7 linked regions of the Homo sapiens genome follow. The protein of the gene in region 7 purifies or fractionates together with the protein of the main gene of each other region. This does not show direct contact. Each region holds a gene or a part of one and is shown on either strand. Other genes may lie near its edges. The genes, in order: ZNF638, SUGP2, NMNAT1, UTP14A, USP36, LTV1 and FGFBP1.

Region 1 (3,500 bases), on a different chromosome or scaffold from region 7:
GTGGTGGCGGGCGCCTGTAGTCCCAGCGACTCGGGAGGCTGAGGCAGGAGAATGGCGTGAACCCGGGAGGTGGAGGTTGCAGTGAGCCGAGATTGCGCCACTGCACTCCAGCCTGGGCGACAGAGCTAGACTCCGTCTCCAAAAAAAAAAACAAAAAAAACTCCGGTGAGGGTTAAGAATAATAAGGGTTTTGGTTTGAAAAGAAAGTCCAGGGTTTTGGTTTGAAAAGAAAGTCCAGGAAACAGGAGAAATAGCTTTAACGTACATTATGTTTTTTTGCTTTGTTTTTGAGACAGGATCTCACTCTTTCTCTAAGGCCACCATGGTTCCCTGCGGCCTCTACCTCCTGGGTGCAAGCGATGTTCCTGCCTCAGTCTCCTGAGTAGTTGGGACAACAGGCACACGTCCCCACACTTGGCTAATCTTTTTTAAAAAAATTCATAGAGACAAGGTCTTGCTGTATTGCCCAGGCTGGTCTCAAACTCCTGGACTCAAACCATCCTCCCACCTTAACCCGCCTAAATTGCTGGGATTACAGGTGTGAGCTATTGCGCCCAGCCTGTTTTCTTCATGGTTACCCTAAGGAACATATATTTTGGATTATTTTTTAATTCTTTTGAACCAAAATATATTTATTGTTCATTCAAGTTTTAAAAAAAATTTCCTATCTTATTTCCACAGTCGGTTAAACTTTTAGCTAACTTGCCTATTGTCTCTGCTGAGTTAAAGTTGCCAACTTTTGTTTTAAATATTTTTACCAAAAAAAAAGAAACAAAACCATTTTACTATGGAAAATTTTAAACATATACAAAAGTAGAGAGAATGATACTAATTCATTCATGTGCCTGTCCAGTTTCAATTATCTAGCTAATGGTCAGTCTTGTTTCATCTCTACTTGCTTATTTTTAAACAAATGCTTCTATCAGTTCAATATATAGTTCAGAATTTTCTCTAGAGTGTTTAGAAGAAAACATGCATATTACACGTAAAACAACAGTAACTATGAGTAATTAATTTTAATGTCAGATATTCAGACAGATATCAAATTTCCCCAGTTGTAACTCACTACCTCCCACCCCCATGCATATGTGGTAAAGGTTGTTGGAGTCAGGATCCAACTAATGTTCATAATTCATTTATAATTGGTTACGATTGATAACTCTCAAGTCTATAAACTCCCCACCTACCTTTTCTTAGAGTTTACTTGAAGAAAAACTTTGCTTTTTATACATTATTTAGATAATCTTTTGCTTCATCAGCATCTGAATTCATGAATTTTGATGTGACTTTAAAAATGTACTTGATAAGGCCGGGGCACGGTGGCTCACGCCTGTAATCCCAGCACTTTGGGAGGCCGAGGCAGGCGGATCATCTGAGGTCGGGAGCTTAAGACCAGCCTGACCAACATGGAGAAACCCCGTCTCTACTAAAAATACAAAATTAGCTGGGGTGGTGGTGCATGTCTGTAATCCCAGCTACTCGGGAGGCTGAGGTAGGAGAATCGCTTGAAGCCGGGAGGCGGAGGTTGCGGTGAGCCGAGATTTGCGCCCTTGCACTCCAACCAGGGCAACAAGAGTGAAATTCCATCTCCAAAAAAAAAAAAAAAAAAAAAAAAAAAACCAAAAAAACACAAGTGCTTGTTAAACAAATTGCTAGATCTCAATATAGGAAATACTGAAAGAAAGGTGGATGTAAGCAATTAACTCCTATGTCTAATATAATTTTCAAAAATTACTCGTCTTACTAAAAGAAAGAAACACCTATTAAGCATTTTGTTTACTGTTGAGCATTTTTTGAGCACCTGTTGCATGTCAGGATTTACAATTTTAGTTAATCTTCACAGCAGCATTCCCAATGGGTACTGTTGTTTCATTTTCACAGGATGAAACAGGCTTGGATTAACCAGCTTGCTCCGGGTAACATTGTTAGCAAGCAGTGGGACCAGAGTTATTTCACAGGATGAAATAGGCTTGGATTAACCAGCTTGCTCAGGGTAACATTGTTAGCAAGCAGCAGGACCAGAGTTAAAACACTGAATGTAGGGTCTAAGTTCTTAAAGACTGTGCTGCACTACCTCTCTAAAGCTGAATTAGTAGTGCTAAATTTTACTTAAGGAGTTAACTAATTTTGCATGAAGTCATTCACTGGCACCCCTCCTAGCAGGGTGGGTATCTTCAGATCAGTGGAAATTTCCCCAAAGATTAGATTATTATGGATTGCATAATAGGCTGACTAACAGTCAATAGTTAGGAAGTGAACATGATGTAGAAAAGAAGGGCCAAATCCAAAAATGTGTTTAAGGCTGATGCTCTTTATTATACTGCAGGTTTTCTGCCTCTTGCCATATTGCCTATAGTTTTTTTTTTTTTTTTGACTTTGTATAAAGTAAGAAGATCACATAGTCCAATGTTGGACATGAAATGTTGTGCCATTAACTATATTTGAATGAATTTAAGTGACAGGTGGTGGGGGAGTTCCCTGTCTCCTGCATATATGGTTTTTTCCCGAAAAGTTTGACATTAAGTTGCATATATTGTGGTCCTTTATCTCTAAATACTTCAGTGTGTATTTCCTAAAAATATTTTCTTTCACAGTCATAGTTACCAACTTCAATGAATTTCACGTTTATAAAATCCTTTTTTATTTTTTTGAGGAAGTGTCTGGCTCTGTCACCTAGGCTGGAGTCCAGTGAGTGATCTCGGCTCACTGCAATCTCTGCCTCCTGGGCTCAAGCGATCCTCCCAAGTGGCTGGGAGTACTGGCTCAGGCGCGCACCACCATGCCTGGCTACGTTTTATATTTTTTGTAGAGATGGGATTTTGCCATGTTGCCCAGGCTGGTCTCGAACTCCTGAGCTCAAGCATTCCACCTGTCTCGGCCTCCCAAAGTAGTAAGATTACGTGCATGAGCCAATGCGCAGCCTATAAAATTATTCAGTCTACTATTTGTATTCTGGTTTTTGTCAATTGACCCAATATTGTTTTTTATAGCAGTTTTTTTTTCCCCCTCCAGTACAGGACTAAACTAAGATCAGATGTTGCATTTAGTTGTTATGTCTTTTTAATCTTCCTTAGTCTGGAACATTTCCATAGTCTGCCTTTATCTTTTGTGAAGTTGACATTTTTGAAGAATACAATCTGCTTTGCTTTTCTCTTTAATAGAGCACTTCTCATTTTGGATTTATCTGATGTTTCCTCTTGATTAGATGTAGATTATATGTCCCTGGGCAGAAAAATCACGTAACTAATGCTATGTCCCCAGGATATCAGATCTGGAGATTTACCATTTCCATTTGCCCTTCATGCATGATACTATGTGTGAGCATATGCTATGGTTAAAGTGCTTGTTTCCCCCCACTCCCCCTGGAATTAATCTCTGGAGAGACGTTTTAAGACCATGCAAATATCCTGCTCATTAGAATTTACCTCTGTAACACCCACTCATGATTCTTACCTGAACCATCCTTTACTATGATGGTTGCAAAATGATTTTCTACTCCA
Region 2 (3,500 bases), on a different chromosome or scaffold from region 7:
TTTTTTTTTTTTTGAGACACAGTTTCGCTCTTGTTGCCCAGGCTGGAGTGCAGTGGTGTGATCTCAGCTCACTGCAACCTTCACCTCCCAGGTTCAAGCGATTCTCCAGCCTCAGCCTCCCGAGTAGCTGGGATTTCAGGAATGCGTCACCACGCCTCGCTAATTCTGTATTTTTAGTAGAGATGGGATATCTCCATGTTGGTCAGGCTGGTCTCAAACTCCCGACCAAAGGCGATCCTCCCGCCTTGGCCTCCCAGAGTGCTGGGATTACAGGTGTGAGCCAGCACACCCGGCGCAGGTCTGGTTTTTATCTCATCAACTACCCAAAGAACTGAGAGCTTCTAATGCAGAAATAAAAAACTCCACCTCCCCCCAAGAAGAGCATACATAACAAGCACTCTGATACACTACCTGCCATCCGTGACAAGTTTAATTATTTACTTCATTTTTTTTACATTAATTTTTTTTTCTTGTAAAGATTAGGTCTGGCCATCTTGCCCAGGCTGGTCTCAAGCTCCCGGGCTCAAGCGATCCTCTTGCCTCAGTCCCGCTAAGCTGGGATTACAGGCACGAGCCACTGCGCCTGGCCCCATGAGAAGTTTTGAAGGATGGTAAAGGTTATAGTAGAATGGTTAGCATTTCACTGCAACACCAAATTTTTCAAACACAAAACATGAGGACTATTCCAAAGCAGGAAAAACCATAAGGCCACTGTCACATGTAAATGTGACTGTCTGAATGATGTAGAACACACAGGTGACTGTTTAACACAGTCCCACAATGGGGCACCATTCACTACAACTTCACACATAGGTTTTGCAGCAGAAGTCCCATGTGAAAGCACGGTCCAGGCCTGACTGTGGGGAGACAGCTTGGAGGGCATTGGGGGCACAGGAGTCATCTGGGCCACGGCGTGCCCATCAAAAGGCCACATGCGATGCAATTCTATGTACTGACAGACTAGGAAAGATAGAATACCTGGGGCTTGGAAAACAGTCAGTGGTTGCTGAATCGGGCAGGGGACTGCAATGGGACAAGAGACCCGTTCTGGGAACAGGCTTCAGCTCTGCTGTACTGGTGGGTTCTCGCCTCTGCACAGTCAACAAAATTCAAATGGTCCACTTGAAAAGGGTGCGTTTCACTGCTGGTAAATTATACCTCAAGAACCCGGAACCTCCCCACAGGAGAGCAGGAGATGGCCTCTCATGGCCGAGGCAGGTCCCACTGACCACTGCCTGGGACCACCCCTGCTCTGTTCCCATCTCACTGTCATGACATGAAGCAGCTTATCAGCACCCTGGGCCTTCCAGGGGCTCAGAAGGGCCCCCAGCTGACAAAGTCACAGGCAGGAAAACAGCTGAGATGACCCAGGCCCATCCCCTCCACAGTTGGGGATGCCCCGACCTGAATCCAGGCAATCAGGGAAATGTCCAGCAGCAAGTAGAGTGCCAGAAGCCACAGGGTAGCAAGGAAACATGTCCTTAGAGCAATGCCTTCAGACCACTGGGAAACATGAGTGTCGGCTCACATTTTGGAGTGGTGCACAAAACTCTTTTGGATTAAAATGTCTCCACCTGTCTCTTCTAACTCTCACAGCCCACCAACCAAGAACTGTGCTAGAGGCAACTGTGCCGACAGGCGGGCACTCACCTTTTGGCTCCTGGATGAGACACACTCTCTTGGGAGCTGGAATCATGCCAACCTTCAATGACTTGCTGCTGATCCTCTTCCGAGGGAAGCAGGTACCTGAGGAGGCCTGTGACAAGGCAGGTGCTCCAGCCAGGTCGTCCTCGGCAGCCTCGCCGGGAAGGCCGTCGGCAGGGGTGCTGCCCTCAGACTTGCCCGCCCCTCCAGGAGCGGGGGCCTCCTCTCCCCCATCCTCATCGTCCTCGTCCTCCTCCTCAGGCATCACCTCTGGGCTCTCCAGCTCAGCCTCCCGCGGAGGGGGCTCGTCTTCAAACTCTGCTTCCCCTTCCATGAGGTCCACGGGGCTCTCCTGAGAACCCGTGGTGTCACCACCACCAGTGTGAAGGTTGTGCGGAGATGACGTGAAACAAATTGATGGACATAGTTCAAACACTTTCTTTCGATAGAATTTGAAAGCAGAACTATTTTGGTCATGTAGAAACCTGGGGCACAGAGGAAATACATTGGGTAACCAGATGGAATCTCTCAACATTTTTATTTGCTGAAACTGCTGGGATTGATCCAAGGAAGGTGGAGGTGGGACAAGGGAAAGAATAACCTGACCAGTCTCTACGCGGCTATGGCTTGATGGTGCAGCCTCTCAATGATAGAAAATTTGAGGAGTACTAGTAACTTAATAAGGAGCTAGAATTCAAGAAGCCTAACTGCTTTCCAGGGGACAGAGGCGGACGAACAAGGTATGCAGGGCTTGGGAAAATGCTGGAATAGAGATCTGGCTTGAGACCCATCTCACCCTTTCTGGTTACATCACTGGCCTCTCTGGGCCTCCATGTGCCCATTTTGACTCTGGTTCCTCCCAGGTATGAGAAGCATGGAGCGATGCCAGGAGGAGCTGCACAGTTACTGCTGGAACATGTGCACCATGGAACCGTAAGGTGCCCCCCGAGGAGGCTCCTCACCCCTAGCACTTCCCGCTCTGGGGCCTGCAGTCCACCTACATGGGCGTGGAGATGAGGCCTCTCTGTGCCTCAGGGGTCTGGTGGCCACCTCGACTTGTAACCACAGCTATGAAGCTGTGGCTGGTATGAGAAACTTGAAACACTCCCGAAAGCACCAAAGTCCACTTGGACCAAAGGAAAAATGGCCCTCGTAAGGCAACTCAACCTCATAAATGTGCCAAGTCCCCCCAGTTAGCATATTAATATATCCCAATAAAATCCCATTCTGAATCAGGGCAAGATGGTTCTAAAGTTCATAAAGAAAAATAATATGTAAGAGTATCTGGGAAAACTCTGAACAAGACTCATAAGGGGTTCCAGCCCCACCAAGCACTATAAAATGCCCCAAAGCCTCTAGAGTTAAACAGCATAGTAGTCCATAAGGCAGACCAAAGGAACAGAATAGAAAGACCAGAAACCCAGCATTTGATTAAGGTAACCTCTCAAACTACTACAAAAAAGGGGTGGGTCTTTCAAAGAATGGTATTGGAAAAGCTGGACGGCTTTATAATTATTATTACACATTTTTAGAGATGGGGTCTCACTCTGTCGTCCAGGCTAGAGTGCAGTGGTGTGATCACAGCTCACTGCAGCCTCAAACTCCTGGGCTCAAGAAATCTTCCTACATCAGCCACCCAAGTAGTTAGGACCACAGGCAAATGCCACTATACCAGGCTAACAAACACACACACACACACACACACACACACACACACACACACACACACACCACACACACACACCACACACACATACAACTAAATATCAGCAGAAACAAATGAATCTGGGCCGGGCATGGTGGCTCATGCCTCCCAGCACATTTTGGGAGGCTGAGGCAGGCAGATCACCTGAGGT
Region 3 (3,500 bases), on a different chromosome or scaffold from region 7:
GCAAAGCGAGAAATAAATAGGGGATCTAACCCAGGAAAGAGATGAAGAAGTTTTCAGAATAATAGCTTCACAAATAGAGATTTTTCATCTGGATAAGAGGAGGAGAGTTCCAGAAAGAAAATCCTCTGGGAAAAAAACAGATTGAATAGAATAGCAATTGTAAATTAAACCATTTGAAATTGATGTTTTGTTGATTAAAAAAAAAATTGCTTGCTGAGCACAGTGGCTCATACCTGTAAGCCCAGCACTTTGGAATTGGCCAAAGTGGACAGGTTCGCTTCGAGATTCTGAGCCCAGGAGTTTGAGACCAGCCTGGGCAATATGGCAAAACCCCATCTCTACAAAAAATACAAAAAAACAATTAGCCAGTGCATGCCTGTAGTCCCAGCTGCTTGGGAGGCTGAGGTCGAAGGATCACTTGAGCCTGGGAGATGGAGGTTGCAGTGAGCTGAGATTGTACCACTGTACTCCAGCCTGGACAACAGAGTGAGATACTGTCTCAAAAATCAAAAAACAAAAGACAATTCTAGTAACATAATTTGCAACATTCATAATAGCTATATTCATAGCATGTTTGCTATTTGCCAAATGTAGTTTTTTTTTTTGTTTTTTTTTGAGATGGAGTCTCGCTCTGTTGCCCAGGCTGGAGTGCAGTGGCACGATCTTGGCTTGCTGCAAGCTCCGCCTCCTGGGTTCACGCCGTTCTCCTGCCTCAGCCTCCCGAGTAGCTGGGACTACAGGTGCCCGCCACCACGCCTGGCTAATTTTTTTGTGTTTTTAGTAGAGATGGGGTTTCACCATGTTAGCCAGGGTGGTCTCGATCTCCTGACCTCGTGATCTGCCCATCTTGGCCTCCCAAAGTGCTGGGATTACAGGCGTGAGCCGCCGCGCCTGGCCTGCCAAATGTAGTTCTATGTCTTGGATCTGTATTGTTTCATTTAATCCTCACAACAATCAGGAGGTAGGTAGTATTATTTTCTCCTTTTTAAGATTGATTAAAAACTGGGACAAGGTGGGCACTGTGGCTCATGCCTGTAATGCCAATACTCTGGGAGGCCGAGGCAGGTGGATCACTTAAGGTCAGGAGATCAAGACCATCCTGGCTAACATGGTGAAACCCCGTCTGTACTAAAAATACAAAAAATAATTAGCCAGGAGTGGTGGCGGGCACCTATAGTCCCAGCTACTCGGGAGGCTGAGGCAGGAGAATGGCATGAACCCAGTAGGCGGAGCTTGCAGTGAGTCGAGATCATGCCACTGCACTCCAGCCTGGGCGACAGGGCGAGACTCTGTCTCAAAAAAAAAAAAAAAAAAATTAGCCAGGTGTGGTGGCACGTGCCTGTAATCCCAGCTACTTGGGAGGCTGAAGCAGGGAGGATTGCTTGAACCTGGAAGGCAGAGGTTGCAGTGAGCTGAGATCGTACCACTGCACCCCAGCCTGGGTGACAGAGCGAGACTCTGTCTCAAAAAAAAAAAAAAAAAGCCAAAGAAAAAACCTGGCACAAAAGGAAGGTTAAGTTAGGGTTAGGTTGCCCAAGGTCATGCCGTTGGAGCTGCAATTTGAAGCCAGGCAGCCTAATATCAGAGCATAGGCTCTTAACTCTTCTGTTATATAGGCGGGAAATTGTAGGATACTTTCTTGTAGAGTCTGACTAATCCAAGCAAAAAGACCTGCGGTACTGACAGGTTACTGAACAGTTATGGCCCCTGTGCACAAGCCCTACCTACCCACTCAGCCTGTCCCATCAGCTCTTTTTGAAGAAACTTTAAAATATATCATGAATATTGGTAGAGAAATAGAGATGATAATCTGTTGGGGAAATGAGTAGAATACCATAAACAGGAGTATTCAGAGGATAGGGCTCTTGGAAATTAAGAGTGTAATGGCAGAAGTGAAAACTAGGCAGATTGGAGGATGAAGTTGAGGCTATCAGGAAATTAGAGCATGAAGGCAGGAGGTGGAAAATACAGAAAAAATGATTAGATGCTTCAGCTCTAAATAATAGACATTTTCAGGCCAGGCACAGTGGTTCATGGGCGGCTGAGGTGGGTGGATCACTTGAGGCCAGGAGTTCGAGACCAGCCTAGCTAACATGGTGAAACCCATCTCTACTAAAAATTCAAAAGTTATCTGGGTGTGGTGGTGCATGCCTGTAGTCCCAGCTACTTGGGAGGCTGAGGCAGGAGAATTGCTTGAACCTGGGAGGTGGAGGTTGCAGTGAGCTGAGATCGTGCCACTGCACTCCAGCCTGGGTGAGAGAGGGAGACTCTGTCTCAAAAAAATAAATAAATAATAGACATTTCAAAAGAACAGATAAAATGGGAGGCAGAAAATCATCAATGAAAGAACTCAAGGACATTTTCTAGAACTGAATGTTACAAGTTTCCAGACTGAAAGGACCTGCTTGCCCTGTGCTCAGCATGATGGATAGAAACAAAGCTGCACTAGAGGACAGCACTGTGAAATTTCAGAACACTGCGGACAAAGAGAAGACCTTACATGCTTCAAGACAGGAAAAAAATGACATTCAAAAGCTCCGGAATTAGAAGTGGCTTTGGATTTCATGCTATTAACATTGGAATCTAGAAGTAATGCCTTTGAAGTTGTGAGAGAAGATGATTTTCAACATAGTCTGGAGATAAACTATATTGGGCAGTTTGGGAGAAGGTAGTCAAAGGGTATGAGGGCTAATCTTTATAGATCATAAAGTCAATGGGCACTGTTATAGTTGGATAAATTAAGAAATGGCATTATAAGCACATAATGTAGAGTTATGGTAGAAACTACCAGAAGAAATAGCTGAAAAAGTTAAAAGTGGTTGGATGGAAGGGATGATGAGTGGAATATGATTGATGGCTGTTGGTTTTCATTAAGGGCCTTTTTTACCCTGTGATGTTCTAGATCTATATATATGAATTAGTTGAATAAGAAATTTTAGGCCAGGCGCAGTGGCTCACGCCTGTAATCCCAGCACTTTGGGAAGCTGAGGCAGGCGGATCACAAGGTCAGGAGATGAAGACCATCTAACATGATGAAACCCCGTCTCTACTAAAAATACAAAAAATTAGGCAGGTGTGGTGGCAGGCACCTGTAATCCCAGCTACTCGGGAGGCTGAGGCAGAAGAATGGTGTGAACCTGGGAGGCGGAGCTTGCAGTGAGCTGAGATCGCGCCAATGCACTCCAGCCTGGGCAACAGAGTGAGACTCCCGTCTCAAAAAAAAAAAAAAGAAATTTTAATAAAAACCTAAAATTGGATGCCTTATGTTACTTCATTAGGGTTATGGAAGGATCAGTGGAATAACTGATATGAAAAAGAGGTTTGTAAATTATATTCTATTATTTAGTGGAAAGTTATGATGTTACTATCATGTTGACTAAAAGGCAAAAATGCTGTATTTGGTAGATGATAATATTGTTGTATTAATTAACTGTGGCCACAATAGTGCAATCACAAAACTTGAGTGACATATGATAATGAACACTAATTTTTTGTTTTTG
Region 4 (3,500 bases), on a different chromosome or scaffold from region 7:
AAAGATGACTATTCAGTTACTTTCTCTGCCTTCCAAGGCATCACAGAGTGGTTCTGCAGAATCAGCTCTGAATTCCAGAGCTGTTAAGGCCAATAGGGCTTCCTTCCTGCCTTTTTGCCTCTTTGAAACTTGTTCGGCCGGGTGTGGTGGCTATGCTTGTAATCCCAGCACTTTGGGAGGCCGAGGTGGATGGACCACTTGAGCTCAGGAGTTCAAGACCAGCCTGGGCAACATGGCAAAACTGGCTGGGCACGGTGGCTCACACCTGTAATCCCAGCACTTTGGGAGGCTCAGGCAGGTGGATCACTTGAGGTAAGGAATTCAAGACCAGCCTGGCCAACATGGCGAAACCCCATCTCTACTAAAAGTACAAAAATTAGCCAGGCATGGTAATGTGCACCTATAGTCCCAGCTACTTAGGAGGCTGAGGCGGGAGGATCGCTTGAGCCCAGCGGGTGGAGGCTGCAGTGAGCCAAGATCATGTCACTGCACTCCAGCCTGAGTGACAGAGTGAGACCCTGTCTAAAAAAAAAAATGAAACTTGTTCTACCCCTCCCTTGAGTTATAGAGGCAAAGGAGACTCTTTGAGCTGCAGAGGTCCACCCTGAGGACTGTGGGTACCAAGAATCTTGCCAGTCCTGTCAGGTCCCAAACTGACTCCCTATAGCCAACTAGCTCTATGATGCCCATTCCAGCCCCCTGCCTAGGGAACCCATTGGGTAGTATGGGCACTTGTGCCTATGACATCCGTGCTTCAGCTAAATTGCTAAACTCTTCCCTCCTACCCCTACAGGTATCACAAAGTCGTGAAGAAAGGAAAGGCCAAGAAAGCCCTAAAAGAGTTTGAGCAGCTGCGGAAGGTTAATCCAGCTGCAGCACTAGAAGAACTGGAAAAAATTGAAAAGGCCAGAATGATGGTGAGACTACCTCTTGCCCCACCCCCACCCCTTTGAACCAGCTTTCCTTGGAAGGCACTAAAGATGTAAATCTCACTCTGTCCTTTCTTTCTAGGAAAGAATGAGCCTTAAGCACCAAAACAGTGGGAAATGGGCCAAGTCAAAGGCAATTATGGCCAAATATGACCTGGAGGTAAGAGACCCTTGGGGTGAGAGAAGATCTGGAATTGGAGGATGCTAGCAGAAGCAGAGTTGGGGAAGAGCCATGAGGATGGATGGAAAACCAGGAATCTAAAAAGGCATCAGAAAAATCTCTAAGGCAGAAAGGAAAATGACCAGGAACAAGGTGGAAAAGGAGAGATGAAAGGGAAACAGCATTGAAGGCAAGTCCAAAGGGGGAGAGGAGCTTTTTAAAATCTTATTTCACCGTTGATTCCTTGAGGACAAAGAATTTGTCTTCCATTTTATACCATAGCTATTAACCCAGCATTGTATATGCAGTTTAAACAGTAGGTACCAGTAAGAAATACTCACCAAGTCAAATTGAGAGGAGGCAGCTTTATGAAATGGACCAGGAAAGGTGTTATTGCGGTCACTAATGACAGGGCTCTCATGCTGTGACTCTTTCCTCCAGGCTCGCCAAGCTATGCAGGAACAGTTGTCTAAGAACAAAGAACTGACACAGAAACTCCAGGTAGCCTCTGAGAGTGAGGAAGAGGAGGGAGGCACAGAAGATGTGGAAGAACTCCTTGTCCCTGATGTAGTGAATGAAGTGCAGATGAATGCAGATGGGCCGAATCCCTGGATGCTCAGGAGCTGCACCAGTGACACCAAAGAGGCTGCAACCCAGGAGGACCCTGAGCAACTGCCAGAGCTTGAGGCCCATGGAGTTTCTGAAAGTGAGGGAGAAGAAAGACCAGTGGCAGAAGAAGAAATTTTGTTGAGAGAATTTGAGGAAAGGCGATCCCTTAGAAAAAGATCTGAGCTCAGCCAAGATGCTGAGCCAGCAGGCAGTCAAGAAACAAAAGGTGAGCTGTGATCAAATGGAAGAGGGAAATTCCTAGTGCTGTGGACAGACTATGGGAGAAAAAAAAAATGTGTCCACCCACACACAAAACTGCATAGTGATTAGGCGCTGGGGACTTGCAAGAGTGCGTACACTGGATCCCTGAAGAGAAATTAGATTCATAACTATTTTTCTTCGAAGACATTTAATAAGCAGTCATCTGCATGGCCGTGCAACGTGGTTCAGGCACATTTTCTGTTCTTGGGGGCTTACAGCCTTCAGAAACCCATAATAACTAAACCATACTCGAAGTCAGGGTATGAGTTAGCGTTCCTGGTACCTACACACCAGGGAGAAGTACGTATGGTAGAATGGCAAATCTGAAAGTCCATTCACACCTGTAGACACAGATAGGTCAATTTTGAGACATTAGGAAACATTGTCTAGTTGCTGGATTTTTTTGTTTTGTTGGTTAAGTAGGAGTGGCATTTTTAGCACTTCTTAATGCTAGTTGATGTGTGTATACATGGGGTGAGACTTTACGGAATGAATGACTCCACAGGGCCACATGGCAAATTAGAATTGTGACTCCATACTCAGGCTCTATTTGTATGTTATATTTTCTACCTGTTATCTTGAAGAGATCTTATTGACAATGTTAGCACCTGTGAGATTGGTCAGAGAGTTCCCATTCTGGCAATAAACCAGGACACTAAAAAACCTGCCTAGGAAACTAGCTACATTGAGAAATCACTTGGCTATCTGGACAAATTACCAGGTCTGGTTTGGTTTCACATAGGAATGCATTTAGATGATGGCAAAAATCTGGTTTTACACGGCAAAAGAATTATTTTTTTCTACTTTTTTTTGTTTAAGAGACAGGGTTTTGCTCTGTCATCCAGGCTGGAATACAGCAGTGCAATCATACCTTACTGCAGCCTAAGACCTCCCAGGCTCAAGCGATCCTCTTGGCTCAGCCTCCCAACTAGCTGGGACTACATGCACGTGCCACCATGCTGAGCTAAGTTTTTGTAGAGACTGAGGTCTTGCTCTGTTGCCCAGGCTGGTCTTGAATTCCTGGCCTCAAGCTATCCTCTCACCTCAGCCTCCCAAAGTGTTAGGATTACAAGTGTGAGCCACCGCACCCAGCCTCCTTTTTTTTTTCCTTTTTTTTTTTCAGGTTTCCACATACAAAAATTTATTTTAAAAGAGCTATCATTTAGAATATATTATAGGGACCTTTACTTAATAGTTTTGGCTGGATATTTTTGGGATTAATAATTGCAAGTAGTCACTTCTGAGAGAATTTTGGAAAGCAGCACAGCGGGCTGAGATTGTGGGGGTGTACATATATGACCACAGGACCCTAGTGGCTTTCTCTTGAGCCCCCTCAACAACTGGCCATCTAGCTAAATGTGCAGAGCGGCTGACTGTGATATGAAAGAATGAAAGATAGATTTGCATTTCCTTGGACAGTAAATAAATTGAATTTTCTCACACCTTCCAAGAGTGTCCTAAAATACTGGAAAGCCACGGACCCCAGTGAAAATGAGCAAGGAAACCTGATTCTTGAGAAATAAACGTACATGTGTCCAAAG
Region 5 (3,500 bases), on a different chromosome or scaffold from region 7:
TTTTTTTCATTTTAGACTTCTGCTTGCCTTTTCTAACTATATCCATGTTATTACTTTTATTTTTAAAATGACAATAATGATTGGTGAACTCAAAATTAGGCAAAAATTATGTCATTTAAAAGAAAATACAGGCCAGATGCAGTGGCTCACGCCTGTAATCCCAGCACTTTGGGAGGCCGAGGCAGGTGGATCGCGAGGTCAGGAGGTTGAGACCATCCTGGCTTACACAGTGAAACCCCGTCTCTACTACAAATACAAACAATTAGCCAGGCATGGTGGCACGTGCCTGTAGTCCCAGCTACTCGGGAGGCTGAGCCAGGAGAATCGCTTGAACCTGGGAGGCGGAGGTTGCAGTGAGCCAAGATCACACCACTGCACTCCGGCCTGGGCGACAGAGTGAAACTCCATCTCAAAAAAAAAAAAAAAAAAAAAAAAAAAAGGGACAACATAAATATTGAAGAGCTCTTTTTTTTCCAAAACCTAACTTCAGGTAAGATACAGTTTTACTACAAAAGAAAATGGCCATGGGGGCCCACACCTGTAATTTCAGCACTTTGGGAGGGTGAGGCGGGTGGAACACGTGAGGTCAAGAGTTCAAGACCAGCCTGGCCACTTGGTGAGACCCCCATCTCTACTAAAAATACAAACATTAGCCGTGTGTGGTGGCAGTCACCTGTAATCCCAGCTACTTGGGAGGATGAGGGAAGAGAATCGCTTGAACCTGGGAGGTGGGGGTTGCAGTGAGCCGAGACTGTGGCAACTGCACTCCAGCATAAGCAACAGAGACTCTGTCTCAAAAAACTGTGTAGAAATTAAGCCTCTAATCATTATATATAAAACGCTGCTGGTTGGGCATGGTGGCTCACACCTATAATCCGAACATTTTGGGAGGCTGACGCAGGAGGATCGCTGAGCCCAGGTGTTTGAGACCAGCCTGGGCAACACTGCCTAACCAAATCTCTACCCAAAGAATACAAAAAAAAAATTAGCTGGGCATGGTGCTATGAGTCTATAGTGCCAGCTACTTGGGAGGCTAAGGTGGGAGGATTGCTTGGGAGGTGGAGGTTGCAGTCAGCTATGATTACACCACTGGACTCCAGCCTGCGTGACAGAGTGAGAGCTTGTCTCAAAAAAAAAAAAAAAAAAAAGCTTCTTTCAGCCTAATAAAATATCACTCTTAACAGGGTAAATAACAATCTAAGCCAGGTTCTCCAGCAATATATGAGATTAATTTAAGTGGCACATGGACAAATATTTATTCATGTAATTTAGGAAAATATAACTCAAAAGTCAATCCATGACTACACGGACATAGAGAGATTTGGGAAACAAAAGGACAGGACTGAACTGCGTTCCTCCTAGACTATTTACACAGTGTTTCTCTTCTAGCTAAATATTAGCGCCAGAGACAGTCCAGCCTACGGCAGGAGCTGCTGCTCCGTGCCACGTGCACAGTGGACCCTCGTCAGAACAAACACCCCTTAGGATCCTCAACTCTTCAAATGCCATGTGCTAGGAGGGGGAGACCACAGCCAAAGCCCACTTAGGGGTCACTCAGGATCCAGTGGGGTGCAGGAAAAAAAGGCCACAACGTCTCTTCATATGTTCCAAGATAGTAAGATGCACTAATATTTCACAGTGATACTGGCCCATGGGACCGGTATTGGAAGGAAGACCAGGCGTTCCCCTTGAAGGGATGGCCATGGCTGCCTTACTCACACGCTTGCTGCTGACATGCTGCAACAAACTGCAGCTTACCTGTGCCAGGTTACGGGGATTTACAGATATTATCTAGTTTTAACTAAATTAATCCTCACAAAGTTGGCAACTGGCTCAAAAAGATCCTGCAGAGAAACCAAGAATGGAAGGCAGCTCTACAGTGGAAGAGCCCTGACAGGCCTGGGATAGCAGAGTCTTACTGCCAAAACCATGAGACGAAAACAACAGCCATCTAGTCAAATCTTACTGAAAGTCCACCCAGAACCACCTCAAAATTACCAAGGTCACCACTGGAAATAGGGGCTACAATTAGCCATCTCAACAATGTGCTTCTGCAGGGCACGGTGGCTCATGCCTGTAATCTCAGCACTTTCGGAGGCAGAGGCAGGCAGATCACCTGAGGTCGAGAGTTCAAGACCAGCCTGGTCAACATGGTGAAACTTCGTCTCTACTAAAAATACAAAATTAGCCAGGCGTGGTGGCGGGCACCTGCAGTCCCAGCTACTTGGGAGGCTGAGGCAGGAGACTCTCTTGAACACAGGAGGCGGGGGTTGCAGTGAGCCGAGATTGCACCACTGCACTCCAGCCTGGGCGACAGAACGAGACTCCATCTCCAAAAAACGCCCCCAAACAATGTGCTGCTTCATCTCAACAACTATGCCTTGATAATTAACCTTTGCTGCTATGAAGCCATCGCAATTAGCAAGATGTTTACAAACACTTCCCACTGCATGGCCATCTTGTGTTCTTTTTTTTATGTTTTTTTGAGACGGAATCTTGTTCTGTTGCCCAGGCTAAAGTGCAGTGGTGTGATCTCAGCTCAATGCAACCTCTGCCTCCCAGGTTCAAGTGATTCTCCTGCCTCAGCCTCCCAAGTAGCTGGGATTACAGGTGTGAGCCACCGTGCCCAGCCAGTAGCAGTCACTTCTATAGCACTCCCTCTTTGCGGGCTGCTACTCCAGGCACTTGACTCACTCAGAATTTATCGGAGCCTCACGCAACTCTGTAAGGAAGACAGTCTCATTCTTCCATAGACCAGGGACATTCTCAAAAACTCACAGTTACTAAGGGGCAAACTGGGAAGCAAACCCTACAGGCCAGGCTCCTGAGCTGTGTTTTCAACTGCTCTGCTCCCTCCAGAATTCTACTTAGAGATTTTCTGCGATGAAAACATCCTGCATTCCTAGGATAAACATAAGTTGCTTACAGTTTTTTAGAAACTGTGTCATTTGGTAGTATTTTCCTACAATTTTTATATCTATGTTCGTGAAGAAGTTGTGGTTATCCATTTTCTTTCTCGCATTTTCCTTATTATTGTTATCCGAGTTATAGGAACTTTATAGAATGAGCTGGGAAAGATTCTCTCCTCCTCTATTCTTTGGAAGAACGTGTAAAGGATTGGAATTGTTTCTTAAAAGTTACATAGAAATTGGCTGGGCACAGTGGTTCACACCTGTAATCCCAGCACTTTAGGAGGCCAAGGCGGTTGGATCACCTGAGGTCACGAGTTCAAGACCAGCCTGACCAACATGGTAAAACCCCATCTCTACTAAAAATACAAAAATTAGCCAGGCGTGGTGGCGTGCGTCTATAGTCCCAGCTATTTGGGAGGCTGAGACAGGAGAATTGCTTGCACCCAGGAGGCGGAGGTTGCAGTGAACTGAGATCACACCACCGTACTCCAGCCTAGGCAACAGAGTCCGTCTCAAAAAAAAAAAAAAGTTACACAGAAATAACATTGTCTCTGCTTGGGGTTTTTTATGGGAAGATTTTTAACCAAT
Region 6 (3,500 bases), on a different chromosome or scaffold from region 7:
ACGCCTCCACTTAAAATTATATATGTGTATGCATGTGTATACCATCAGGAGAGAATAGGTCACGTCTTCTCTGGTGGCAGGTGTCAACAGTAACAGCCTTTTTATAGGTTCAGAACTTTTGATTGATAGACATGGCCATGTTAGACAGCACTTTTCAATAGGAGAAAAGCAGCTGACATTCTACATGTTAACAACATAACTGTTTTCAGGATCATAAACTCTTGTTCTAAGATAGGACTTAACTTTTGTGGAATATTCAGATCTTTAACACTTTTGTAAAAGCTGCAGGCTACTCATAAGCAAACAGAATGAGTGGATGATAATAACATTCCTGTCTTGTAAACAAATGTTCGGTCCACTTTAATACCTTCTCTTTCAGGACAAATGATAGTACGTGTTTATAAGAAATTAGTGCTGTTAGTCTAAGTTCTGTTTTCTCCCCTGTTTATGTTAAGAATGCCCATGTTGTATGCCTCCGTGACCTTATTTTTAATTTGATGTAGAGTAAATTTTCCTGTGGGAAACTTTTATATCACCTAGCACTTTAAAAAAAGGAGACATTCATTAGGTTTATAAGCAAAAGGTAAGAGATAGAAAGGGCACCAGTTTACCCTGCTCCTCATTCCCCAATTCTGTCATGGTCTAGGCATTCCTTTCCTTGGGGAAGATGTGATTGTAGTTCTTATAGGCAATAGCTTGTTGCTTAAGGAGACTCAGAAAGGTTAGGTTTCAGGATACCATCCCAAAGAAAGGTAATAACTGCAGCTGCTCGTTCACTAAGTAGGTTGTGGCTCTTTTGTAACGCCCCAAATCCCACCACATCTCTGTCATAGAGAACCAACTTCTTTATTCCTTCTTCCTCAAGGCTTTATTGGTAGTAGGGACTTATTGGCTCACTTGCTTCTATAACCTATTGAAGGAGAGAAGGGGTTCCTTAGTGGCTCAACTTGTTTATCTAAGGGAGAAAATTCTTAGTAAAGTCTTGCCTGGCTTGTATTGACCAGTACAAGACTAACTTTTGTTGTTGTTGTTATTGTTGTTGAGACGGAGTTTTGCTCCTGTTGCCCAGGCTGGAGTGCAGTGGCACGATCTCGGCTCACCGCAACCTCCGCCTCCCGGGTTCAAGCGATTCTCCTGCCTCAGCCTCCCTAGAAGCTGGGATTGCAGGCATGTGGCACTGTGCCCGGCTAATTTTGTATTTTTAGTAGAGCCGGGGTTTCTCCGTGTTGGTCAGGCTGGTCTTGAACTCCCGACTTCAGGTGATCTGCCTGCCTCGGCCTCCCAAAGTGCTGGGATTACAGGCGTGAGCCACCGCGCCCGGTCGTATAAGACTAACTTTTAATCCTTAATTCATTTTGAGTAAAAGCAATCACTAATTGGCTTTTTAACAGGATAAGGCTCTTAAATGGACACTTCAGTGACCTTTGCAGGGACAGCTGAATTGTATTTAAAAACAGAAGTGTGGTTGGTTTTCTGAAGAGCTATGAAAAAATATGGATTAGTCCCATATACTTTTTTTACTTTAATTTGTAACACACCACCAAATTCGAGTAGATTAGAAATAATGAATAACCCCTAGAAACAGTGTAAGACAGTGTAAAAAGGCAGTATAGAAATGATTGATGCTTGAGCAGGCCCTGATTTTGACATGAAAGAAAGATGGTGGTGCTGTTGTGGAAAGTAGCTGGGCAAATGTCATGTAGTTGAGAACTACTGCAACCAATGAAAACACAGCACTCCTCTAAAAACAGAGTAATTTCTCTTTAAACTCTTAATCGTGTATGTGATTGACTACTTTTCAAGATTTGAAAAATATCTCACAAAGGTAAATTCATTTAACACAAACTGACCTTGTGTTTAACCCCAAACTTCTAAGGATAAATATCACAAAGGTACCTTTTTAAAAACCTAAAAGACTATGTAGATTTTACTACAATTTTAAGTAATTAATAATGTAATATCCTTAAAAAACATTAAATTGTACACTTTAGGTGAATTGTATGTGAATGATGTCTTAGTAAAGCTGTTTTCTTAAAAATATACTCTACAGCAAAATAACATCTTTGCCCATGTTTGTGCTACTGAGAAACTCATTTTGGAAGCCATAACATCTTGCTGTGTGTACACTGCCATATGTAGCCTTTACTCATGCTCCTCAGAGGCTTCCAATTCAGAGAGCTTTCTCAGTGAGCCAATGAGGATGCACATTCCAGCTTTGTGCCTCCTCCTGGGCTGAGGATAGGGCAGGTGGTGAGGTGCACAGAGATAAATAACACATGGCGGTTGTCCTCACGTTATGAACTGTTTGGTCAAGGAGAGGAAACAAGCATAAGAACCAGTCAGAGAATGTAGGCTAGCAAGCACATGTTTGAGTAGATTGCAGCGTGTGAAGAAGGCGGGAAGTTCACACAAAGGGAAGTTCTAGGACAGTGATCAGAAAGGGCTTCATGTCGGAGGGTAGGAACCGAGCTGGCCACCAAGTGGTGGGTACTGTTGACAGGAGAAGGAACATTTTCAGTCAGGCTGCCGAGACAGTGAGCACTGTGGTTCCGTGTCAGGCACATGCGCGCCAAGTAAAGTGTTTTGCATTATTACATGACTGAGGAATGAACTTGATTTGCATGGTCATATAGAATAACTGAGAAATTTGGATACACAGAGTAGGCCTTGATTTTATAGGTCCTTGAGAACCAGGGCCTTAAATACAGAGTGAAAAATTGAGACCTGTCAGAAACTCAAGAAGGTCACATGAAAAACTATTAAAGGAGCTTAATCTCGCCATGGGTATGAAGGTTGTAGTAGATATAGACTAGCTATATGAGCGGTTGCAGTCATTTATGTTTTGGTTAACTATAAATGAGGTGATGCCCCAAAGAATAGAGTGAAATCACTGTATGTAAGAGATTTCAAGGGGACATAGGACAGAGCAAAATGATTTATAACCACCCGAGGATTTAAGATTGCCAATTCATACAAGGGCTGTGCCATTACTAGAGATTAGGACATTATCTCTAGTTTAAGAGGAAAATGTTTAATTTTGGTTTGAAATTTCAGGCAAGTGGAGTTAAGAAACTCTGGGATTTGAATCCCAGAATCTCACTTACTGATCATTCTCAGGCAGGTGGGCCATTTAAACTTTCCTAGTTTTTGTTCTTTTGGTAAAACATGGTGATACCTCATGGGATCTGAGGGATAAATGGAATAATTTGCTAGAGAAGGCATTGTGATGTATTATAGAGAGTTACTTTTGGGTTTATGATGGAATATACATGTTTAACATATATACAACCTGGAGCACAGGTGAGAGAACACAGAATGTAGTTGTAATAGTTTCCTAGGACTGCAGTAACAAATTACCACAAACTAGGTGACTTAAAACAACAGAAATTTCTTCCTTCATGGTTCTGGAGGTCAGAAGTTTGAGATGAAGGTATCAGCAGGTTTGGTTTTTTTCTTGGGGGCTTAGAGGGAGAGGCTGTTGAATGGCTCATTCCTAACTT
Region 7 (4,172 bases):
ACTCCCCTTGTTGAGCAAAGCAGCTTTGCCTTGCCTATGTCCAAATAATCCTCCAAAATACCGCATGAGAGAGCCTGTTCGTGGAGGTCAGGGCCTCAGCGGGGTGTTTGTGAGGATAGTGAGGACGGACCCCTGGGTGAGGCAATTTTAGGAGAGAGGCACACAGCTTCAGAAATGGCTTCTTCCAACAGATTCATGCAGAGACTGAGCCTCTGAGTAAATTGGTCAACATCTATAGCTATGACCACGGAATTCTCAAACAGGTGGATCGTTCATAAAATCCAAACACAGTTACAAGTTTTGGCCTGCATAGTGTTGAGCTACAGCTTTATTTTTAGAAAATTTTAATTAGCTGCCAACCAATTTCATATAAACACATCTGGATTTGGGGATGTCATTTTAAAAATCAGACAGTGTGACAATACTGAGCCTAATCCCTGCATTTTCTCAGTCAATTGGAGATGAGTGTTGACCTCTATGGAGGCAGAGACTCTCTAGTTTGCCACAGTCCCCATCACTCCCTATTGCCTTATCTCAAACCCAAAAGTCAGTTGCCATTTAATATCACACTAAACAATAGTTTTCTTATGGCTGAATTAAGGAAAAGTGAACAATTTCTTCTTCTGAAAATCTATGAAAGGTGAGGTGATAATATATAATGAGGGCCACATCTTCCCTGTAGAAGTGAGTTTCTTTTTAAATGCTGCATATGTAAATAACAAATGTCTGTTTTCAAAGTATACAACTTAAGACCCTGTCATGAGGCAAAACGATTCTGCTCCACTTTATGTTAACAGCTTAGCCCAGTAAAAATTTAGTATGCAGCTATAAAGGAGACGTTGTTATTGTCAGCACACTGCAAATGGATGATGGGAGAGGCTAAGTGGTTTGGGCATAGCACTCAGCTAAACACATGCTGTGGCCAGGATTCCACCTGGGTCATTCTGGTGTGGGACTGTGCCTGTAGCAGGCAGGGCAGCCTGAGCTCTCTGAATGAGACCTGAAGGTAAGTATTTACAACAGTAATCTTATATTAAAAATTCCCTCTTTACCAGCCTCTCAGAGCCTGGTAGAATTCCCTGATAAAAAAGAGGGAATTTTTAATGTAAATTTCCCTGCCTCTAGAATTAGGGTATCCTCTGCTTATGTAGTAACTTCAGATGGAAAAAGGAACTCAGACACTACGAAAACTTCGGCAACTTCAGTCACCCATTCAACAAAGATTTATTGAGAGTGGCAGGCAGGAAGAGATCAGACCATGGATGTAGAGAATCTCACTTTTAATTTTGAGATGTTCCTTTTCCTGCCTCTGTGAACTTGGACAAGCTCTTACATATCTCCAGAACCAATTCCTGCTTTTGTAAAAGGGGAGGAATCATTGCACTCCCTACTAGAGCGGATGTGATGAGGGAAAAGGAGAACTCAGGTAAAATGGGCTCAGTAGTTTGGCAGCTCGGATCATGTCATTATAGTTATTTTACTCCTCCATAGACATCACTGCTGGGGTCCTCTCCCCATCAAGGAGGGTCACTGTGAGGCTGAGTTGTCCTCCTATCCTGGCCACAGGGTGGACAGGGAAGGGCCTAGAGGAAGCGTTTGATGGCATGCAGGTAACCCCCCTTTTCACTGGATTACATCCAGCACTTTCCCTGCAGGAACCGGCTCCCTCGGAGGGGCGTGGCTGGGAGGAGCTGTGAGTAACGTGCCACAGTGTTGTAAAAACCCAGTGAGTGTTATAAAAACCCAGTCAGCCTGGCTCCTGTTGAATAGTCTACCCCCCTTGCACTCTACCTGACACAGCTGCAGCCTGCAATTCACTCGCACTGCCTGGGATTGCACTGGATCCGTGTGCTCAGAACAAGGTAAGAGCCTCGCTCCTTTAACAGCTTTATTACCTGCTGCCACTTCTCACTCCACCAAGGGCCTGGAGTTCCTTGGGCCTGCATTCCATCATGGGCAGGTGGGGGCTGAGCCCCAGGGCCGTGAGAAATGACTGGGTGTTTTTCTGGCATATCCAGTCTCCTCTTCACCATTTATTGCTGTTCTCTGCCCTTTTGTGATTGTCTTTCTCCTTCTTAACCCTAGAAGATGGCCAACTTCTAGGGTAGAAATCAGATCAGGACCATTTCCTGGGTCTGCCTCTTTTTATAAAAAATTCTGTGTTTTGTTTTAAATGGAGCACAAATAATACAAATCATCTTATCATTATGTGTTATATGAAACTAAATTGTCATTGTTCATAGTTGTTTTTCTTATTCTTTGGCAATGTTTTTAAAGGGCAGAGTAAATGTGAAAAGCAAAAAGTGATCAACCAGGGGTGACAGAAAGGAATAAGGAGATTGATCTGGCTACCCATACCAGCTTTGAACTTGCCCACTATGAGATCCTGAGCAATTTACTTACCTGTCTGAGCCTTAAGAGTCAGAGCTGTCACCTGGGATGACATATTAATAGCTACCTGGAAGAGCTCTTGTGTGGATTTCACAAGGTGGGAATCAAACCCTAGACCAGTACTTAGCACACAGGAGGTGTCATATAGAAACTGACTTCTCTTCTTCTGTTAAGCATGGGTTTTTATTGTACACATGATCAGATTCATGCAGTTCAGTGTGACGTTGGTGTTCATCCTATTGATTCAATGATTTCTCATGATCCTTGTCTTCGATCTTGTAGTGTGAACTATCTGGTTGAAATTCACCTCTCTCCACCCTGATTCACTTTGCCCAGGCAAATCAGACAACCACCCCACCTCACACCTTTCCTTAAACTCTTACTTCCCCACAAAAAGCTCCCCCACCCCCACAACCCCACCCACCCCACCCAAACCCCAGGCATGTTCAACTCTGGGTCAACATCACCTTTCATGATGCTTACCACATCCTTTCTCATTTTGGGCATCTGTCATGTCTTTTCTCATTTTGGGCATCTGTGTCCATATGGAGTCATGAGATAGAAATCCAGCCCTTTGGAGCTGAAAGTTTGGAGCAGTAACTTGTTTCATATCAGAAACAGAGATGACGGGATAGATTCCCTGATCAATGCTATTTAAATTCTCCCAAAGAGTGGTCTCTAAGCTCTTTCAAATCTGAGGCTTTCTCAATCATGGTGATTTCTTCAACACCTAGTCTGGTGGGGGGCATATAGTAGGTGCTCAGTAAATGCTTGTTGAATGAGTGAATGAAAGAGTGAGGAGTGAGCAGATGCAGGAGTTAATGAGTGAATAAATGATAAATGAGAGTTCGTGAGGCTCCAAAGAGTGGTACTTTTGTGACACTCAAGACTCAAGTCAAGTGGAAATGTGAGTAGACAGGCTGTTTGTCTAGTGACTCCAGGAGCCAGAAGCGTTCTTGGTCTACTCTGAAATCATGTAGGCACCTGTCAGGGTAGGGGGAGGCCAGCGTGTAGTCCTGCACAGCTGAACTGCTGCCTGCCACTGACTCACTTGCCTTTTGTCAAACAGGTGAACGCCCAGCTGCAGCCATGAAGATCTGTAGCCTCACCCTGCTCTCCTTCCTCCTACTGGCTGCTCAGGTGCTCCTGGTGGAGGGGAAAAAAAAAGTGAAGAATGGACTTCACAGCAAAGTGGTCTCAGAACAAAAGGACACTCTGGGCAACACCCAGATTAAGCAGAAAAGCAGGCCCGGGAACAAAGGCAAGTTTGTCACCAAAGACCAAGCCAACTGCAGATGGGCTGCTACTGAGCAGGAGGAGGGCATCTCTCTCAAGGTTGAGTGCACTCAATTGGACCATGAATTTTCCTGTGTCTTTGCTGGCAATCCAACCTCATGCCTAAAGCTCAAGGATGAGAGAGTCTATTGGAAACAAGTTGCCCGGAATCTGCGCTCACAGAAAGACATCTGTAGATATTCCAAGACAGCTGTGAAAACCAGAGTGTGCAGAAAGGATTTTCCAGAATCCAGTCTTAAGCTAGTCAGCTCCACTCTATTTGGGAACACAAAGCCCAGGAAGGAGAAAACAGAGATGTCCCCCAGGGAGCACATCAAAGGCAAAGAGACCACCCCCTCTAGCCTAGCAGTGACCCAGACCATGGCCACCAAAGCTCCCGAGTGTGTGGAGGACCCAGATATGGCAAACCAGAGGAAGACTGCCCTGGAGTTCTGTGGAGAGACTTGGAGCTCTCTCTGCACATTCTTCCTCAGCATAGTGCAGGA

Evidence for each region.
Region 1: the proteins of FGFBP1 (region 7) and ZNF638 purify together in Homo sapiens (affinity purification with mass spectrometry; one large-scale study listed by BioGRID and IntAct). This does not show direct contact.
Region 2: the proteins of FGFBP1 (region 7) and SUGP2 purify together in Homo sapiens (affinity purification with mass spectrometry; one large-scale study listed by BioGRID and IntAct). This does not show direct contact.
Region 3: the proteins of FGFBP1 (region 7) and NMNAT1 purify together in Homo sapiens (affinity purification with mass spectrometry; one large-scale study listed by BioGRID and IntAct). This does not show direct contact.
Region 4: the proteins of FGFBP1 (region 7) and UTP14A purify together in Homo sapiens (affinity purification with mass spectrometry; one large-scale study listed by BioGRID and IntAct). This does not show direct contact.
Region 5: the proteins of FGFBP1 (region 7) and USP36 purify together in Homo sapiens (affinity purification with mass spectrometry; one large-scale study listed by BioGRID and IntAct). This does not show direct contact.
Region 6: the proteins of FGFBP1 (region 7) and LTV1 purify together in Homo sapiens (affinity purification with mass spectrometry; one large-scale study listed by BioGRID and IntAct). This does not show direct contact.

Annotation. Positions count from the first base shown.
Region 1 is NC_000002.12:71,334,782-71,338,281, forward strand, and holds part of ZNF638 (zinc finger protein 638), read left to right. Parts: intron 1-3,500.
Region 2 is NC_000019.10:19,002,518-19,006,017, forward strand, and holds part of SUGP2 (SURP and G-patch domain-containing protein 2), read right to left. Parts: intron 2,130-3,500; coding exon 1,651-2,129; intron 1,092-1,650; coding exon of another isoform or gene 997-1,091; exon of another isoform or gene 979-996; intron 1-978. UniProt on the Homo sapiens protein: May play a role in mRNA splicing.
Region 3 is NC_000001.11:9,967,475-9,970,974, forward strand, and holds part of NMNAT1 (nicotinamide/nicotinic acid mononucleotide adenylyltransferase 1), read left to right. Parts: intron 1-3,500.
Region 4 is NC_000023.11:129,919,664-129,923,163, forward strand, and holds part of UTP14A (U3 small nucleolar RNA-associated protein 14 homolog A), read left to right. Parts: intron 1-793; coding exon 794-917; intron 918-1,011; coding exon 1,012-1,089; intron 1,090-1,139; exon of another isoform or gene 1,140-1,279; intron 1,280-1,530; coding exon 1,531-1,924; intron 1,925-3,500. UniProt on the Homo sapiens protein: May be required for ribosome biogenesis.
Region 5 is NC_000017.11:78,830,815-78,834,314, forward strand, and holds part of USP36 (ubiquitin carboxyl-terminal hydrolase 36), read right to left. Parts: intron 1-3,500. UniProt on the Homo sapiens protein: Deubiquitinase essential for the regulation of nucleolar structure and function. Required for cell and organism viability.
Region 6 is NC_000006.12:143,846,338-143,849,837, forward strand, and holds part of LTV1 (protein LTV1 homolog), read left to right. Parts: intron 1-3,500. UniProt on the Homo sapiens protein: Essential for ribosome biogenesis.
Region 7 is NC_000004.12:15,935,941-15,940,112, reverse strand, and holds the start of FGFBP1 (fibroblast growth factor-binding protein 1 precursor), read left to right. Parts: upstream 1-1,372; 5' UTR 1,373-1,426; intron 1,427-1,641; 5' UTR 1,642-1,862; intron 1,863-3,460; 5' UTR 3,461-3,480; coding exon 3,481-4,172.